Linked DNA regions of Homo sapiens. The protein of the gene in region 1 interacts with the protein of each later gene in a pairwise test. Each region holds a gene or a part of one and is shown in the gene's direction. Other genes may lie near its edges. The genes, in order: DHX15, PINX1 and DYSF.

What was found.
Region 2: the proteins of DHX15 (region 1) and PINX1 interact in a two-hybrid assay, tested with the Homo sapiens proteins (one large-scale study listed by BioGRID and IntAct).
Region 3: the proteins of DHX15 (region 1) and DYSF interact in a two-hybrid assay, tested with the Homo sapiens proteins (one large-scale study listed by BioGRID and IntAct).

Annotation. Positions count from the first base shown.
Region 1 is NC_000004.12:24,526,800-24,529,831, reverse strand, and holds the end of DHX15 (ATP-dependent RNA helicase DHX15), read left to right. Parts: intron 1-61; coding exon 62-231; intron 232-1,790; coding exon 1,791-1,908; 3' UTR 1,909-2,357; downstream 2,358-3,032.
Region 2 is NC_000008.11:10,829,876-10,833,375, reverse strand, and holds part of PINX1 (PIN2/TERF1-interacting telomerase inhibitor 1), read left to right. Parts: intron 1-391; coding exon 392-484; intron 485-1,632; coding exon 1,633-1,711; intron 1,712-3,500. UniProt on the Homo sapiens protein: Microtubule-binding protein essential for faithful chromosome segregation. Mediates TRF1 and TERT accumulation in nucleolus and enhances TRF1 binding to telomeres. Inhibits telomerase activity. May inhibit cell proliferation and act as tumor suppressor.
Region 3 is NC_000002.12:71,571,098-71,574,839, forward strand, and holds part of DYSF (dysferlin), read left to right. Parts: intron 1-3,100; coding exon 3,101-3,274; intron 3,275-3,742. UniProt on the Homo sapiens protein: Key calcium ion sensor involved in the Ca(2+)-triggered synaptic vesicle-plasma membrane fusion.

The DNA of each region.
Region 1 (3,032 bases):
TAGCTTTACAACTAGCAAGTCAGAAGCATTGTATTAATAATATACTGGGTTTTGGTTTCAGGTGGCACATTTAGAACGAACAGGGCATTACTTAACTGTGAAAGATAACCAGGTGGTTCAGTTGCATCCCTCTACTGTTCTTGACCACAAACCTGAATGGGTGCTTTATAATGAGTTTGTTCTAACAACAAAGAATTACATCCGGACATGTACAGATATCAAGCCAGAATGGTAAGTACACCTTTTGTTCTAACAGTTTTTTGTTAGTACTTTGCTCAAAATGGAACCTGACTGTTGCTAGAGTCATGGCCTTGCATTCACTCATTGAGAATTTATATTTCAGTGTGTAGGTATGAGGGAATTGACTGGATGGTGTGATTAATCTTTCACACCCTTCCTTTGTTAAGTGGACAGTGGGATTGTTGATATTTATGGGCAGGATTTGAAGCCAAATGTGAAGTTACATTTGAATAGCATGAAAAGTTTCTTCAGGGGCTGGGCATGGTGGCTCACACCTGTAATCCCAGGACTCTGGGAGGCCAGGATGGGAGGATCACTTGAAGCCAGGGGTTCAAGACCAGCCTGTGCAATATAGCCAGAATCCATCTCTACTAAAAGATATATAGGTGTGTACAAAAATTAGCTGGGCATGGTGGTGCTGCACGTCTATAGTCCCAGCTACTGGGGAAGCTGGGCAGGAGGATTGCTTGAGCCCAGGAGTTTGAGGTTGCAGTGAGCTATGATCATGCCACTGTACTCCAGCCTGGGTGACAGTGAGACCCTGTCTCTCAGACATACTTTTAAAAAAGGGTTTTTTTTTAATTTTTTTAATTTTTAGAGTTTCTTTGGAGCCATTCTCTTGCTGTTGTGATTCTCAAGTCAGTACTGTTTCTTGCTTGCAGAAATCTGTTTTTTTTTGTTTTGTTTTGTTTTTTAACATTTTTTTTGTCCCATTACAATTAGCCCTCAACTATTTATTATTTATATATTGGTTTTTAGGAACTGTGCAGGCATAAAAATGATAGCTCTTTGTGTTTTAACATACTAGCTTCTACAAAATGTAGAGTAAGAACGGATTGTTTTATTTTAAGCAAAATAACCCTCACCTTCATGGTTTTTTGTTTTATTTATGCCAGAATCTATTCTATAACCTATGACAGGAAATGTCAGCCAAGAGTAGTGGGACTGAAGGCACATATTCTAGGTGCTGTCACCGCTTTATATTGTGCAGCTGCTTTCTTATACGGATTTGGGACTTTTGACACTTAAATTGTGTAGGACATTACCATTTTATCTTAAACGCTTTGTTGAGAAAAAAATTATATAGCTAAACTTTATAAAAGATTTCAGTCAAGTGTATTTTGGGGGTATAGAGTTACAGTTATTAAAACATTGAAAATGAAAAGATCCAATCATTTGAATACCACGATGTTTCCTACACAGAACCTGTTATATATTACTATATCCTTGGAGTGGCAAATTAATAGTGTGCCAGAGTAAAGAAATCAGTGACTTTATCTGTTATCTTTACATTAATGTATCTTGAGGGGTTTGTTATTAAGTTTATGGTAAGTCCAACATCAGAAAATTCACATCTTACTAAATAAAATACTTAACACATTTCTAAAAGTGCTATTTGTAAGGATTAGTTATTTGTATTTTTCTGAGACTTGAATTCATAGATTTGCCTTGGTTCATCAGTATATTAATGAATAATGCCTATCCTATTAACAACTCCAGTACTTCAATTAAATGTTAATTTGGAAATTTTTCTGCCCACTTCTAAACAGGTTGGTGAAAATTGCCCCTCAATATTATGACATGAGCAATTTCCCACAGTGTGAAGCAAAGAGACAGTTGGACCGCATCATTGCCAAACTTCAATCCAAGGAATATTCACAGTACTGAATTCAGTGCTTAGAACTGAAGTTATTGAGAGGACAGCTTTAAAAGATGAATGAACTCAAAAGTTCGAGTTGTGCTCTTCACGTTGGTTCGATAATGGCCTTTATTTGAAAGCTTTTTAATTTTTCTTTACAGTAAATATTCCATTCTGATTTCATAAATTAAACATTTATGCCTCCCTTTTGTGTTGACACTGTAGCTCATACTGGAAAAGTCGATCAATGTTTTGCAGTTTATTGAAAGTAGTTCTATATATAACAATGTTATAAGCATTTCTTTAGAAATGGTTGAAAATGCTTCTAAAATGTGATTATCGACCATGGTATGCATGATCGTTGTAATTGTTGACATTCCTTTTAGAAGTTGTGAAATGTTACAACTTGTGCTTATGTAGACACAATCTTCTGTCTCAGTACAGAGGCACTGACTTCAATAAAGTCTATTTATACTAATTTTGGCCAAAGCCCTTTGGTATCTTTGTTCTAGTCTCTAAGTATAGTTGTTTTTCAAGTGTGGAGCTTTTTTATTATTATAATTATACTGTTACTACATATTTAGTATCTTTCTACCAGGAGTACTCCTTAGGAAAAGTAGCTGTTAAAGCAGTATTTTTAAGAGCATGGCTTAGCGCTTTGTTAGGTTAATCAGGATGTGATCGATCTAAAAGGGGTAAAATGTGTGTAGTGATCATTTGAAACTGGACCCCAAAAGAGAGAATAATGAAAGGAGAGCTCTCTACTTGTCTTTCTTAGAGTTCCTTTCATAAGGCTCATAATTTATTAACTACATTTTTGTCAGATGTTTTTATTATACTTCTAGCTTCTCAAACACGTTTATTAGTATTAGGTAAGAGGAAAGCATATTTTAGATCTCAGTTTAACAAAATTCTTAGTGATGGAAGTTTTATGCAGTATACAAAATAATTTGTATAGTGTGTTAAAATGTACATTTGACCTTCCATTTTCTATGACAGGCAGTAGACAAGTTGAAAACTTGTCTACATTCATTTTGGAATGAAAATTGAGGTGTTTTATGTGGCCCATAAAATGTTTTTTAATCAGTTATTTTCATATGAAGACTAAATACTGTACTCATTAGTCTGGACTTCCCTCTTCTTCCCCTCCTAC
Region 2 (3,500 bases), on another chromosome or scaffold:
AAAGACCAGTGGTTTTCCATTGTCTTTAAAATAAAATCCAAATTCCTCCCGTAGGTTATGTGAGATCTAGCCCCTCCGTCATCCTACTTCCTTCATTCCTTAATTTGCAGAAGCCACCCTGGGTGCCTCTGAGGTTTCCCAGTACACTGAGTTTTTTCCCACCTTCGGGTCTTTGCACTTGATCTTTCCTTACCTGGAAAATCTTACAGATGAGTGCTAATTGATGCAGAGGACTTAGAGTCCTCCCCCATGTTGCTTTGTGAAAGTATTTAATGGAGAGAATCATCAACTCAGAACACCTGCCGTAGGCATCTGTGAGTTTTGTAGCAGTGCTCTGCTTCTGAGTATCAGTGAGAGGAATGTTCTAACTCTCTGTGTTTAATCTCCACAGGGTTTAGGGGCTCAGGAGCAAGGAGCCACAGATCATATTAAAGTTCAAGTGAAAAATAACCACCTGGGACTCGGAGCTACCATCAATAATGAAGTGAGCAGCAGTGTGTGCCTCCTGGGTGTCTTTGCATAATTGGCTTCAGTCTTGTAAATCTGAAAGTTGATTGGTTCATCTGCTTCTGACCATTGGTGCAGCACTTCTTTTTATTCACGTTTCCTCTTGAACACTGACGCTTTGAATGCATGGCACTATAACTCAGAGTCAGTGGCCTACCGCGCTTTTTATTTTTAGTATCATTGTTCCCTTTTGGAAAGGATCTAAACTGAAAAGTTTTGTTTCTAAGTTTTTGCAGCCAACATAATCTGGTAGGGAATCTGGGAAATTACTTTAGGTAAATTGAATTACTTTGGTTAGTTCCGTATCTCTGAGTAGTGGATTGGCGGAGCTAAAATTTTTAGCCACTAAAGAAAGAGTTTATATAAAGTTGATTTCAAATGTAGTTGTTGAGGGATAGATAACACAGATATACTTATTTTCTTAGAAGAAGCATTGCCCAGTAAACCTATTTCATATTCCTTTACCTTAAGCATTCTTAAAAATTGCTAAGAATGTGAGTAAGGCAGATTCGTACACTGAAACCCTGCTTCCCACTGGTTTGGGAGATCTTCATTCTCTTATAAAAGCCAGGTTCATTTTTTTATAATAAACTTATTAGGTAACCACCTTACAAATGGGAACTCATCGATTCAGGGGACTTAAGGTTCTTCCTCCTCCCCTTCCTCAGAGTTTTGTAAAATTGGAGTTGATGCAAGTCATTAGAAGATTTTAATTCTACCAAGCAAAGAAGAGCATTTTTTTGTCCCGCATGGTTCTTGTCCTTTCAACTATGGAATTTCCCCTAGTGAGAAAAAAATAGTCATTTCATTATGTTTTACTTTAACATTTAGCACACAGGTTGCCTGTTGATTATTTACTATATATTGACTTGATCGATAAGTCATTCACATTTGAAATCAGGCCTTAAGCTTCCAGGAAGCCCCTTTTTAATATTGACCTGGATAAAGAGCATTTTAACTTTATATTATTTCTTGAATCCACTTAAATTTATCAAATAGTATTTTGATGGAACATTTAAAATTTCTTAATTAACCACTGGATTTCCTTGATTCCAAAATGTATCATCTCAGTCAGTGTAAGTAAACTACAGGCTTACCTCTCGTTCATTTCTTTGATATTTTCAGGACAACTGGATTGCCCATCAGGATGATTTTAACCAGCTTCTGGCCGAACTGAACACTTGCCATGGGCAGGAAACCACAGGTAGGGAAATCAGATGACATAAGTTCTCAATGCAAATATGTTTATCTACTTTTTGTTTTTTGCTTTTATTATTTTTAGTTGACACATAATTATACATATTTATTGAGTATAGTGTGATATGTCAATACCTGTGCACAATTTGTAATGTACACATGTGTTATGTTCATCAACGTAATTAGCATATATATCACTTCAGACATTTATTATTTGTGTTGGGAGCATTTAAAATCTGTTCTTCTAGCTATTTGAAAATATAAAATAAAATATTATTTATTATAGTCACCCTACAGTGCTATAGAACACTAGAGCTTTTTCCTCTTATGTAGTGGGACTTTTATATCCATTAGCCAATCTTTAGCTGTTCCTACATAGCTGTTTTCCTTACGCAGCTCTAATAACCACTATTCTGCTGTCTACTTTTATGAGCTCAACTCTTTTAGCTTTTCCATATGAACGAGAATATGTGATATTTATCTGTGCCTGGCTTATTTCACTTAATGTCCTCCAAACTCAACCATGTTGCCTCAAATGAAAAACTCTCATTCTTTCGTAAGGGTAAATAGTATTCCGTGGTGTGTATGCACCACATGTTTCCCAGTTCATGTGTTGGTGGACACTTAGGTTGATTCCATATCTTGGCTGTTGTGAATAGTGCTGCAGTGAACGTGGGTTTGCAGGTACCTCTGCAACATGCTGATTTCCTTTCCTTTGGGTAATGCCTGGGAGTGGATTGCTGGATCATATAGTAGTTCTATTTTTAACTTTTTGAGGAGCTGCCGTACTGTTTTCTGTAGTGGCTACATCAACAGTGCATAAGAGTTCCAATTTCTCCATATCCTAACCAGTAATTATCTTTTATAATTTTGATAATAGCCATCCTAATGGGTGTGAGATGATGTCTCATTGTGATTTGGATTTCCATTTCCCTAATGACTGATGTTAAGCATCTTTTCATCGCTTATTGGCCATTTTTATATCTTCTTTGAAGAAGTGTCTAAGTACTTTGCCCATTTTTTAATTGGATTTTGTTGTAATCTGCAAGCATTTTTATAAACATTCTTGTTTATGAACAGTCTATTCCTTGTGTGTCATGTGTGAATAATCAAAAGATATTTGGTAGATTGAAAGAATTTTGTGGAGTGAAATAATGAATTAGACTTGAGTTCAGCAAACATTTATTGAGCTGTGTGCTGGGTACTAGTTTAGGTGTGAGGATCTGCAGAGGTATAAGACACAGTCCTGCTTGGAGGTAGCTAGCAGAATATGCTGGTAATTACCTGGTAAAATCACAGCACACATCTAACCATAGGAAGGTTTATTGCAGTGACGTGTGTGGAAGTGAGCCCAACAGTGTGAAGGGAAAGGTGCTTTGTTGGTATTTTTTCTAACCAGATTGGACTTTTTGTTGGAATGTATAACTTGGACAGTTTTCCTTATCCATAGGATCATGATTTTGAAATAACCTAACAGTTCTGTGTGTGGTCCTAATATGAAGGGCAATAATTTATTAGCAGAAGAAAAAGATAAGGAAAATGTTTTCTGAAAATACTGAATGACTCATATTAGGAAATGCAGGATCTATGAAGTAGTAAAGTTCAAGGACACTATTCCTTACTAATTATACACAGAAAACATCTTGATATTTACGATCACAGTTGAACTCAGTAGAAACACAGATAAGAATGTAAGCTTGGCTGGGCACGGTGTAATACCAGCACTTTGGGAGGCTGAGGCGGGCGGATCACCTGAGGTCGGGAGTTTGAGACCAGCCTGACCAACATGGAGAAAC
Region 3 (3,742 bases), on another chromosome or scaffold:
ATCACACCCAGCACACAGATCACACCCACAGATCACACCCAGCGCATGCACAGATCACACCCAGCACACCCAAAGATCACACCCAGCACACACACACAGATCACACCCAACACACCCACAGTTCACACTCAGCACACACAGATCACACCCAACACACCCACAGTTCACATGCAGCACACCCACAGTTCACACCTAGCACACACAGATTACACCTAGCACACCCAGCACACGCACAGCTCACACCCAGCACACCCACAGATCACACCCAGCACATGCACAGATCACAGTCAGCACACACAGATCACACCCAGCACACACAGATCACAGTCAGCACACACAGATCACACCCAGCACACACACAGATCACACCCAGCACACACACATCACACCCAGCACGCACAGATCACACCCACCACACACAGCTCACACCCAGCACACACACATCACACCCAGCACACGCACAGATCACACCCACCACACACAGATCACACCCAGCACACACAGCTCACACCCAGCACACACACAGATCACACCCAGCACATGCAGAGATCACACACAGATCACACCCAGCACACCCACAGATCACACCCAGCACATGCACAGATCACAGTCAGCACACACAGATCACACCCAGCACACACACAGATCACAGTCAGCACACACAGATCACACCCAGCACACACACAGATCACACCCAGCACACACAGCTCACACCCAGCACACACACATCACACCCAGCACATGCACAGATCACACCCACCACACACAGATCACACCCAGCACACACAGCTCACACCCAGCACACACACAGATCACACCCAGCACATGCACAGATCACACACAGATCACACCCAGCACACCCACAGATCACACCGAGCATGGATCACATCCAGCACACCCAGCACAGATCACACTCAGCACACACACATTACACCTAGCACACCCACAGATCACACCCAGCACACACACAGATCACACCCAGCACACCCACAGATCATACCCAGCACACCCACAGATCATACCCAGCACAGATCACACCCAGCACACCCACAGATCACACCCAGCATGGATCACACCCAGCACACCCAGCACAGATTACATCCAGCACACCCAGCACAGATCACACCCAGCACATGCACAGATCACACCTAGCACACCCACAGATCACAACCAGCACAGATCACACCTAGCACACCCACAGATCACACCCAGCACACAGAAATCACACCCAGCACACCCACAGATCACACCCAGCACAGATCACACCCAGCACACCCACAGATGCTTATAGACAGACACACTCAGATGCCCATGATTACAGAAGGTCACATGCAAAGTTCACACACCAACCTGGAAGATGGAAAGACACCCATGGACTTTGTCTTAGGCTGGGTTTCCTGGAGGCAGAAGCTAAGACGTAGATTTGGCTGCACATTATTGGGGCAGTGCCCTCGGGAGTGTGAGGAGCAAGGATGCAGCTTCAGGCAGGTCAGCTGTGGCCTGAGCTGTGGCCTGGGGAAGTTCACAACTCGGAACACCACAGAATCCTCACCTGGAGGCAGGGCTGGGCTTTGTATCCTCTCAGCCATCTGTCTAGGCTTGGGGTTGCTGGGGTGAGCTGGGGCACATACCTATCTCTTCAGTGAGGGGGTTTCCTTTAGCATGGGGGTTCCCTGGAGCAGGTGGCTTCTGGGAGCTGGGAGCTGTCGATGCTGATGGCAGCTGGGGATGGGTGCGCCACACGTGTACATTGGCTGGTGAGGGGGCTGGGGTGGGCCCCGTTGGCATTCATGCAATGCAAGCACACATGCCCACAGTTGAGCACAGATGCCATGGGATACTGTCAGGCCCATCGTGCACATGGATGAGCACACGCAAGCACATGCACTTGCTCCGGGGTCACACAGGGGCCTGTGCACTGCACAGCCTCTGTGCCCGCCTGTCCTGGACCTTCTTGGTCTATGATCTTCCTTCCTAAACACACATTTGAATTTTGGCTCAAGAACCAGACCTCCCTTAGTCCAGGAGTAGCCTGTGGCATGACCTAGGTTCCTTCCTTTCTCCTTGGGGGCAGAGAACCTAGAGAGGACTCTTGCTGGCTCCAGGGAGGGGCAAGGCTTTTGGACAACCAGCTGTTCCTGGTGCTGTGAACCAGACAGATTCAACTTTCTCCCTGAAGGGGCACCCAGCAGACAGAGGCAAAGCCTGCCCAGGCTCATGTGCCTTGCCCACCACCCCACAGCCAGCATCCTTCCTGGAGAGTGGCACAGCTGGCCTCCAGGACTGGCCCTTGTCACTGTGCTCCTGGCCCAGACCTGAGGTGGTGTCTGACAACAGTGCCAGGTCACCCTCTCCCAGGAGCTGAATGGCAAGGGGGCTCCCGGGACTCCCTTCAGGCCCAGGAAAGGGACCCCATGAACGAGGTACAGGGGTGCCTCCATAGCTGAGTTGGGTCTAGCTCCCAGGGGTGAAATTGGCTGTGGTTGGGAAATAGGATCTTCCTTTTACCTCTGAGCTGCAGACCCACTACAGGATGTGAAGATGAAAAAGGAAATGACAAGAAAACTTTGGATTCATGAAATCCACCCAGAATTCAAACAAATAAGCAAGTTAAAAGCCCAGTGTTTTCGTCACTGCGTCAGCCTACCTTCCTTTCTGGCTGTTTGGTTCTTCCCGCAGCCCATGGAGCCTCCTCTCCCCTCCTGATTTTTCTTTTTCTTTTTTCTTTTTTTCTTTTCCTTTTGAGATGGAGTCTCATTCTGTCACCCAGGCTTGAGTGCAGTGGCGCAATCTCGGCTCACTGCAACCTCCACCTCCCAGGTTCAAGCAATTCTCCTGCCTCAGCCTCCCTGGTAGCTGGGATTACAGACATGAGCCACCATGCCTGGCCTCCCCTCCTGATTTTCTGACCTGGGGTTCCTGTGGCTGCAGAAAGCCCCTCTCCTCTAGGTGGCCCTCCCAGGTTTTCCCACCTGGAGGGCACTAGTGTGGGAGCTGGTGGGGAGTTGTCATGGAAGACAGGAAGGCAAAGGTGGAGCCGAGCACAGAACTCCCCCCAGCCTTCCCACCGGCCTCTGAGTCTGCCCCTTCTCTTGTGCAGCACAGGCAGGCGGAGGCGGAGGGCGAGGGCTGGGAGTACGCCTCTCTTTTTGGCTGGAAGTTCCACCTCGAGTACCGCAAGACAGATGCCTTCCGCCGCCGCCGCTGGCGCCGTCGCATGGAGCCACTGGAGAAGACGGGGCCTGCAGCTGTGTTTGCCCTTGAGGGGGCCCTGGTATGTGGGGCTGCACTTGTCCTGGCTTGGGTAGGGTATATCTTGGTTTCCCAGGGCTGTTCGGGCTGATGTGGGAGAGGCACAGGGACCCCAGGTTAGGACTTTTGGATGGAACGCTGGCTGGTCATCCTGGCGTCAGTACCTGTGGGGTGGCATGTGGGGAAAGCAGCCCCAGTCTGGGTGTTCTTCTAAAATGAAAAAGCTCCTTCCTTGGCACTGAAACACTTGCTGCTACTACTTTGAGGTGTCAAGATGAAAGCAGAGGGGAAGATGGCCTTGGCCGTCTGGCTGGCCTGTGCCTGGCTGGCTGGTGTGAAGATGGGCGAGGAGGCCCATGGGAGGAGTGAGAGAGTTCTTGTGGCCCCAGAGTGTCCTTGGTTGCATGTGCATCCTCTTGAGGCAGAGACCATCTCATGGTCATCCCCAGCAATTTTGGGGAAGAGGTGTGCCTTAGAAGCTGAGCCCCAG